Linked DNA regions of Homo sapiens: all the other regions are linked to region 1. Evidence: fine-mapped expression QTL. A gene starts in region 1. Each other region holds a variant in brackets. All regions are shown on one strand. Distances are from middle to middle.

Region 1 (2,754 bases):
GGCAGAGCCTGCAGTGAGCCAAGATCGTGCCCCAGCACTCCAGCCTGGGCGACAGAGCGAGACGCTGTCTCAAAAAAAAAAAAACGGAGAAAAGAGCAAAACCAAAAATCTCATTCTCACCTTCACTCCAGGGATCTCTTACCCTCAAAGCCTCCTTTTTAGCAACCACACTGAACTGTCCTCCTCGGCCTCCACCTCCTTCCCATGAGCTTATCTTTGCCACAGGAACCTGGCCTGCATAAATCCGGCAAAAGGGCTTCCAGCCCAAGTTCAAATCTACTTACTCAGAGTGTTGTCTTAAGCAGTTACCAAACCTTTCTGAACCTGTTTCATTGTCCAGTACCTCTCTCCTAAAGATTAAATTAGGTAACGCAGGCAACCATTTAGCACAGTCCCTGGCACATGGTGAGTGCTCAGAAAGCGATAACGGTTACTGTATTATTCAGGTAAAGTTGGGAGAAGGAGCCGGGCTCCCCAAGGCTTCTGTGGTTTAGCCACTGGGCAAGGTCGGCCCCTGCCGGACTGGGGCAGGAAGTTCGGCAGTGCTGAAGCTAGTGGAGCCCAGGGTCAAAGAGCGCCTAACTTTTCCTGGAGGCTGTAAGGTGGCTCCGCGGTGCCACGCTGGGGCCTCAGGCGAGGGCGGGGAGGGCGTGCCGGGAGGAGGGCGCAGCCCGGGCTAGGTCTCCCGGCCTCCAGCTCCCGCTCCTCTGCAGACCTCAGGCCAGCCCCCGCCCCTCCCTCGGGACAGCGCCCCCGAAGCTGTCTCTAGAGGATCCCGGGGTCGGAGGCAGGGTTCAAGGCAGCACTTACAGGAGGATCTCCTGCTTCGTCAGGAACGTCAAGTCCTGGAAGGCAAAGCCAGAGCGGGGATTAGCGGACCGCTGGGAGGCCGCGGCCGCCCCGCAGCCAGCTCCCGGACCCTGCTCCCGAGAAGAGGCCCGCACGCGAGCTCCCCAGGGCCAGGCGTCCCGCGCACCTGGTACTCGGCCAGCAGCTCCTTGGACAGGCGACTGCCCGAGCCCCCCATCGCCCCGCCGCGCGCACAGCTCCGCCAACTCGCCTCGAGACGCAGACAACTTTCTCACTTCCGCCCTTGGGCCGCGTCACTGCCCGGTCCCCGCGGCAACCGCTCCTGGGGCCACCACCCCCGGGCCCGCCCCCTCCTAAAAGCTGCCAGGCGTTCCCAGCCGGGTTTGGCAGGCGAGCTGCCGGCTCCAAGCGGTCCTAGGCGAGCTGGAGGCGGGGCCCGGGGAGGGGCCCGACGCTCCGGGGCGGAGCCCGGGACTCACGGCCCCGCCTCCGGGGTGGGAGGGGGGGGCGGGCCACGCCGCGCGCGTGCGTGCTGGCTGCGTATGCGTCACGGGCGTCATGACCTCGCTGTGGCCCCGGCAGCGGCTGCGGGGAAAGTCGCGAGGTGCATCCGCTTCGGCTGCAGTAGGTGGTGGCGGCGGCAGCCCTGGGTGGGGTCCCATAGGGGCATCTGAGAAGTCACTGGAGCTAGCGTTTCCGGGAAACCTGGAGACTCGCTGAGTGGCGGGGGTCGTCGGCTGCCCCTCTGCCCAGCAAGGGCTTTTCTAGATGTTATCATCAGGCAATCGCTGCACCTGTCGCAGCCCCCAAGCCACCTCTTCCAGAAGTAACCATAACCTTGCTTCCTTCTTAGGCTATTTACTGAGGACCCACTGGATGTCAAGCATTGTGCATAGTTTTCTTCGATTGTTGCAACATCCCTTGCGAGGTAGGTTCCCATTTTACAAAGATGGAAATACGTAAGTCCAAAGGGTGTTAGTGATTTTTCCGGGCGCCGGCATTTAGAAGGTAATCGGTCCAGTCCAAGGCACTTTTAAAGGCTCTCCACTGCTGTTCTCATCATTCCAGCTGACCTGCCGTCCTTTTGACTCCATCTCACCCCTAGACTGCTGACCCTTTGCTCTTGTCCCCTCTTAACCTCTAGGATAATGTTTGGCACATAGTAGGCTCTCAGTAAATATTATCGAATGCATAATAAATGAATGAACGTATACTATTGCAAAAGGTAAGGATTCCAAACTGCTGGGAGGAGGAAGTGGAGGTTGTGTTGGTCAGGCTGGGATTAATTCTTGATCCTTCCAATCCATTATACTTGCTGATCTTTGTAAAGTCTAAATCTGAGTATGTTAGTCTCAGTTTATAACCATTAAATGGTTAAAAACCCAAATCCTGGCCCTCTGTAACTGGACTTCCTCCTATTGGCTCTCTGTCTTTCAGCCACTTTGGGCCCTCAGTCCCTCTTCCATCTCATCCTCAGGGAAGCCTTTCCTGACTCCCTAGACTGCCTAGGAATCTACTTTACACTGGAAGAATACCCAGTGCTCTCCTTGGCAGCATGTGTTTGATAAGACACACTGTATTAACAGGTACATTCCATCATTGTAGAAATATTCAAGGCCAGGCGCGGTGGCTCATGCCTGTAATCTCAGCACTTTGGGAGGCTGAAGCAGGCGGATCATTTGAGGCCAGGAGTTCAAGACCAGCATGGCCAACATGGCAAAACCCCATCTCTACTAAAAATACAAAAATTAGCCAGACATGGTTAAACCTGGGAGCTGGAGGTTGCAGTGAGCGGAGATTGTGCCACTGCAGTCCAGCCTGGGCAACAGAGTGAGACTCTGTCTCAAAAAATAAAAATAAAAAAAAATAACTAGGGTATAGGCCCATCCCAACCTGATCATTTTTCTCTTTTTTTTTGAGACAGAGTCTCGCTGTGTCGCCTAG
Region 2 (2,754 bases), 29 kb after region 1:
GTCTCCAAACCTTAGTCAGTCTTCCTTTCCCTACTGAACATTCCCACAGCCCTACTCTTGACTCACTGAGCTTGCTTTCCACAGGAAAGAAAAAACTGAGTCATCCCATGTGGCAATGCTGGACCAGGAACGATATGAGGATTCTCACCTGGGAAAATACCGGCGGATCTACCCTGGGCCTGACACAGAGAAGTATGCCCGCTTCTTCAAGCACAATGGCTCCCTCTTCCAAGAGACTGCTGCTTCCAAGGCCAGAGAGGAGTGTGCCAGGTACTTTGACCGACATTCTCCTCTGCACACCTAGGTGGGGACAAGTCCTGAAGCTGCATTGCTTCCCAGCAGGGAAAGAGGAAGCCAGACACCAGCAAAGAGGAATGGAGCTATAAATCCTATCAGACTCTTAGTGACTCTTTTCAGTTTAGTAGGTTTCCTATCTTCCCCTCTCATTGCTCTCGCATCAGTCCTAAGAACAGATTGTAATTTCCTGCTCTTTCCTCATCCCCATTTTTCCTCACCCCTCTTCTCCCCAACACCATTTCTCTACTGTCTGAAGCTGCTGTGTCTTGTCAGGCAGCAACTAGAGGAGATCCGCCTTAAGCAGGAACAGCAGGAGACCTCGGGCACTAAGAGGCAAAAGGCCAGGGACCAGAACCAGGGTGAATCAGCTGGGGAGAAAAGCCGACCCAGGGCAGGGCTCCAGAGCCTTTCCACCCACTTGGCTTACAGGAACCGCAACTGGGAGAAAGAGGTGCCAGGGGTTTTGTAGCTCTTATCTTTCCACAGGAAAATGGGTTGGGACAACTAGATAGGGGAATGAATCTCTGCTGTCTTCTCCTCCCCATGCACAAGAGAGAGAGGAGTTCCTAATCAGTAAATTGAATCCGATCCTTTGGAAGATGAAGTGAGAGAATGGACAGCAAAAGGAACCTTCCTGGGTCAGGGAAGGGATGAGGGTAGAGTGGGCAGGAGGCCTGTAGCCATCCTGGGTGATGGTTTGGGACTTATCCTTGGAGATCCTGCATTTATCTCTCATGTACCTTGTAGCTGCTGCCGGGACAGCTGGACACCATGAGGCCTCAAGAAATTGTGGAAGAGGAGGAGCTGGAGCGGATGAAGGCCCTGCTACAAAGGGAGACTCTCATCCGAAGCCTGGGTATTGTAGAGCAGCTCACCCGTCTGCAGCACCCTGGCCCCCAGGGCCAGAAAAAACTTCATGAGAGTCGGGTGAGGGTCCCTGTGAAGTCTCCCAGAGGAAAAGGGAACAAGGGCTGTCATTCCAGGACATGGTGTTGGTCTCAACAAAGGAGGCTTGTGTGATGGTATCTGTCAGTGGAGCCTGGGAAAGCAGAGTGCGCTAGCTGGACCTTGGGAGAGGGTCTGTTGATTCCTTTTGC[G/A]TCTGTTCCCAAGCTCCTTTGTTTTAGATATGACATCCAGCAAGTTGCAGCTCCAAACCTTCTCATTTACAGGAAACTTGCTCTCTATATTCCTGTCCCAAAATAACCCCACACTCATGACTGACAAATAACAAGCCCACCACCCTCAGTGGCTTCTGTATAATTTTCTCCCTAGCACTGCCAGTGCCCCAGCTCTAATGGGAGATAAGTAAACAGATTTGGGCCAACAAAAGAGCTGCCGCTTTCACTATTCCCTGGGCTGGTAGCAAACCTGTTGGGTCTTCTGTTTTTGTTGAACCCCAAAGGAGTATCTGGTTAAATAGTGGCCGCGGCCTAGAAGAGATTTTTTTCAGTTACCTCCTTCTTCCAACGCTCCATCCAAACTTACATAAAAATGTGGTAAGGGGCTGCTCTTCTCCTCTAGCCTAGATTTTGCTAGGACAGGCTGGGCAGTCAAGAACTGAAATCTATGAGTCTGGTCCTACTGGTGCTCCTAAGAGGGGCTGCCACAGAGCAGGGCGCTCCTCATTTCCTGCATCCAGTTCTGCCCCATGAATCAATCCCCAGGATCTTAGGGGCACTGCCAAGCATGAATGCTGCAATCCCACATGTTCCCCGGTACCATCTGCAGCCCAAGAACTTCAACTGGACAGGAGAGCCGGCAGCCATCAACTCCTGTTCATTGTCAATGAAGAAGGCTGGGAGGTGCTATTTTTCCAGTGCCAGAATCAGGCTCACTAGCCGTAAGTATGCAAAACTAGCTTTGGTCATTTTGACATATGTAAATCCCACTAGCAAGCATAGAGCTTGGATGCCCCTAAAATATAATATGGCACTTCCACCAGTGTAAGAATGGGGAAGTTAGGGTACCCATTTATTTACTCCTTTTTTTTTGAGACAAGGTCACGCTCTGTCGCCAAGGCTGAAGTACAATGGCTTGATCTCACTTCACTGCAAACTCCACTCACGGGCTCAAGTAATTCTCCTGACTCAGCCTCCTGAGTAGCTGGGACTATAGGCACACACCACCATGCTCGGCTAACTTTTGTATATTTTGTTTTTGCCACGTAGCCCAGGCTGGTCTTGAACTCCTGATCCACCTGAATCAGTCTCCCAAAGTGCTAGGATTACAGGTGTAAGCCACCGCACCAGGCCTATTTAATCCTTTCTGTACACTAGACCCTGGTGATAGAAATGGCAGAAATACAGTCCCAGCACTCAAGAGGTAATAGGAACATGGACAAAAAGACATACCATACCAATTACAATACAGTGTGGGAAAGACAGTGGAGGGAAGCATGAGATGCCCTTCCTCTGTGTTGGTAATTGGGCCACAGTTGGGAAAGAGGTGAACAAATCT
Region 3 (2,754 bases), 58 kb after region 1:
ATTTTTAGTAGAGACGGGGTTTCTTCATGTTGGCCAGGCTGTTCTCGAACTCCTGACCTCAGGTGATCCACCTGCCTTGGCCTCCCGAAGTGCTGGGATTACAGGCGTAAGCCACCGCACCCAGCCCAAAAGCTTTGTGTTTTTCAAGATATTTGACATGTTTCTTGTTTTAAAAAAAAAATCTTAATAATGTAGGAGAATAAAAGAAACGTTTTTCCAAAAAAAGAGAAATCATTGTGATTATTTTATCTTATTGGAATGTTGGATACTATAGCCTGCTTCATTAATCATCAAGCATGCTATGGATTTTCCATTTTTATAGGATCTGTATCTCAGTTAAGGTAATACTGGTAATTATTGTACTCCATTTGAAGATGAAAAATATAGGCCAAAATTATAGACCTTGCATAGAAGCTGGATAATGGAGACAGCTCTGGAGGAACACGTAGATACACACACACAGACACACATATATATAAAGAATACACACATACATTTTTTAAAGTTTATTTTTTACAGTTTTAAAGGTTTTAAAGCAAAAGCCGGCCCCTCCCCTCTGAGTGGGCGGCCCCTCCCTCTCTCTGAGTGGTCGGGTACAGCGGTTGCATGGGCAGCTTTCCTTGTGAACCACAGGTCCTTCTGGACACGGTGCTACCTGGCCACGCCTCCTTTCCCTTTCATATTTCTCATTGACCAATGGGCTTGGAGCATTAAGGCCACGCCCCTATTCTGCATTCTAGTGGGGCCCCGGTTATGCCTCTTCTGGCTCAGTTGCACAGCTGCCTGGTAGGTGACTGGAGGCATTCATCAGTGCTCACTGGGATTTCACTGATGTGGCCCAACCCCGCCTCCCTCCACACCCCATGATGTCAGAAAAAACACGACAGGGCAAATGGGCCGCAGCCAGGAAAAAGGTAAAACGCACCAGGTCATGGCCCCCAACCCAGCCACAGATCCCCTCCGACAACAAGACCGTTGCCGGAGTCCATACCACCCCTGAGGCACACTGGACTGGGCCCCCCAACCCCAGCCCTCCTCCCTAGCCCGCCAGGCCTTTGTTTCCCCACCTGTAAAATGGGGCAGTGTAGCCCTCACATGAAATGGTACTTCTAAGGCACCTGTGAGCCGGAGCCCTGCTCTGATGGCTGTGGGAGAGAGGGGATGATTTTTCTAACCTCCCTCCACCCTTCCCAGTGCTATGGGAGGCAGACACCAAGTTCTGGGGTCTCCAGTTGCAGCGGGTGGCTGCTGATTGCTTCTCTCTGTCCAGAACGAGAACAAGAGCGCACTGCAGTTGGAGCAGCAAGTAAAGGAGCTGCAGGAGAAGCTGGGCTAGCTGAAGGGGACGGTAACCTCCGACCCGTCCAAGAAGGTCTGGGAG[G/A]CGGGCACCAGCCTCTGGGGAGGGGAGGTGCCAGGCCAGAGGCAGCTGCAGCCTGGGGGCAGGTGACCCCAGCACCCTCCAGGGCAGTCCTATGACTGTTTCTTGCTTCCTGCCCTCTGACTTTTAGAGGTGGGTAGCCCTGGCTCCTCCCAGGTCTGGACATCATCATCCCAGCTAGAGGCATGGAGCCCTCCAATCACAGAGGAAGAGACAGTGGCATAAGAGGCTCCTTATACCAGGTGCAGTGGCTCACACTTGTAATCCCAGCATTTTGGGAGGCTGAGGCAGGAGAATCACTTGAGATCAGGAGTTTGAGACCAGCCTGGCCAAAATGGCAAAACCTTATCTCTACAAAATTACAAAAAAAAAAAAAAAAAAAAATTAGCCGGGCATGGTGGTGCATGCCTGTAATCCCAGCTACTCAGGAGGCTGAGACATGAGAATCACTTGAGCCCAGGAGGTGGAGGTTGCAGTGAGCTGAGATCGCACCACTGCACTCCAGCCTGGGACACAGAGTGACACTGTCCCAAAACAAAATATGAAAAAAACCAAAACGACTCCTTAGATTCAAACTGGATTCCGGCCTCGGTTCCACTGGTCATCATTCAACTACTTTCCATCTCTAAGTCTCTGTTTCTTTAACTTCAAAAGGAAGTGAGCTTTTTCTTCGCAGAGGTGCCGAGGGTTAAATGAGATAATACGTGGAAACATTAGGCATGTAGCACACTTAGCAGATGGTGGTTGGCTCCCTCTGCTTTTCCACCAGTCTGTGGCCTACAGTTTAAATGGCTGGAAGAAGAACGTGAGATTTGAGGCTGGGGAAGGAGGCATGGGGTTCTAGGCAAGGGAGGCAGTCTCTTAGGCCTGGAGCAAGGGGCCAGGGGCCTGGGCAGGCCACAGAGCCCCACAGTGCCCTCACTACCCTATTAATGGGCCAGGAATCTGGAAGCCAGCCACCAGCTGCCCTCATGCCCAGGGACTTCCAGCAGGTGGAGCTGAAGAGCCAAGAGGCTCAGAGTCTGCAGCAGCAGCGAGGCCAGTACCTGGGTCACCTGAAGCAGTACGTGGCCACTTATCAGCAGCAGGTGGCAGCCTATCAGCAGCTGACCTCTGAGAAGGAGGCGCTGCACAGGCAGTTACTGCTGCAGACCCGGCTCATTGGACCAGCTGCAGCAGCAGGAAGCTCAGGGCAAAGCAGTGGCTAAGATGGCCCGCCAAAAGTTGCAGGAGACCCAGGGGAGGGAGTTGCTGAGGACGGGGCCCCAAGAGGGACAACCTGGCAACCTCTGTGCCTTCTCACCCTCTTTCCTGGCATCTCAGGAGCACCTGGAAGCTACCAGCCAGCAGAACCAGCAACTACAGGCCCAGTTGAG

Evidence for each region. PIP is the estimated chance that this variant, and not a neighbour inherited with it, causes the effect.
Region 2: its variant is the best candidate, but not a certain one, in a credible set for the expression of CIB1 in adrenal gland (GTEx, PIP 0.76).
Region 3: its variant is the best candidate, but not a certain one, in a credible set for the expression of CIB1 in hypothalamus (GTEx, PIP 0.79).

What each region holds. Positions count from the first base shown.
Region 1 is chr15:90,232,859-90,235,612 of GRCh38, forward strand. CIB1 (calcium and integrin binding 1) reads right to left here and starts at 1,083. Exons shown (of 7, transcript NM_006384.4): 1 at 977-1,083; 2 at 811-845. The coding sequence starts at 1,027. GDPGP1 (GDP-D-glucose phosphorylase 1) reads left to right here and starts at 1,351. Exons shown (of 4, transcript NM_001013657.3): 1 at 1,351-1,434; 2 at 1,664-1,738. RefSeq lists silencers at 576-1,025, 1,046-1,485.
Region 2 is chr15:90,261,922-90,264,675 of GRCh38, forward strand. TTLL13 (tubulin tyrosine ligase like 13) reads left to right here. Exons shown (of 15, transcript NM_001396017.1): 11 at 85-270; 12 at 571-748; 13 at 1,045-1,224; 14 at 2,026-2,137. It also overlaps a transcript of CIB1 not described here. Among named protein-coding and RNA genes, the nearest start is that of NGRN, 2.4 kb to the right of the region's middle. The variant G/A (reference allele first, on the strand shown) is at 1,395.
Region 3 is chr15:90,291,131-90,293,884 of GRCh38, forward strand. It overlaps the pseudogene GOLGA2P8. Among named protein-coding and RNA genes, the nearest start is that of NGRN, 27 kb to the left of the region's middle. RefSeq lists enhancers at 2,083-2,242, 2,086-2,586, 2,587-2,754. The variant G/A (reference allele first, on the strand shown) is at 1,382.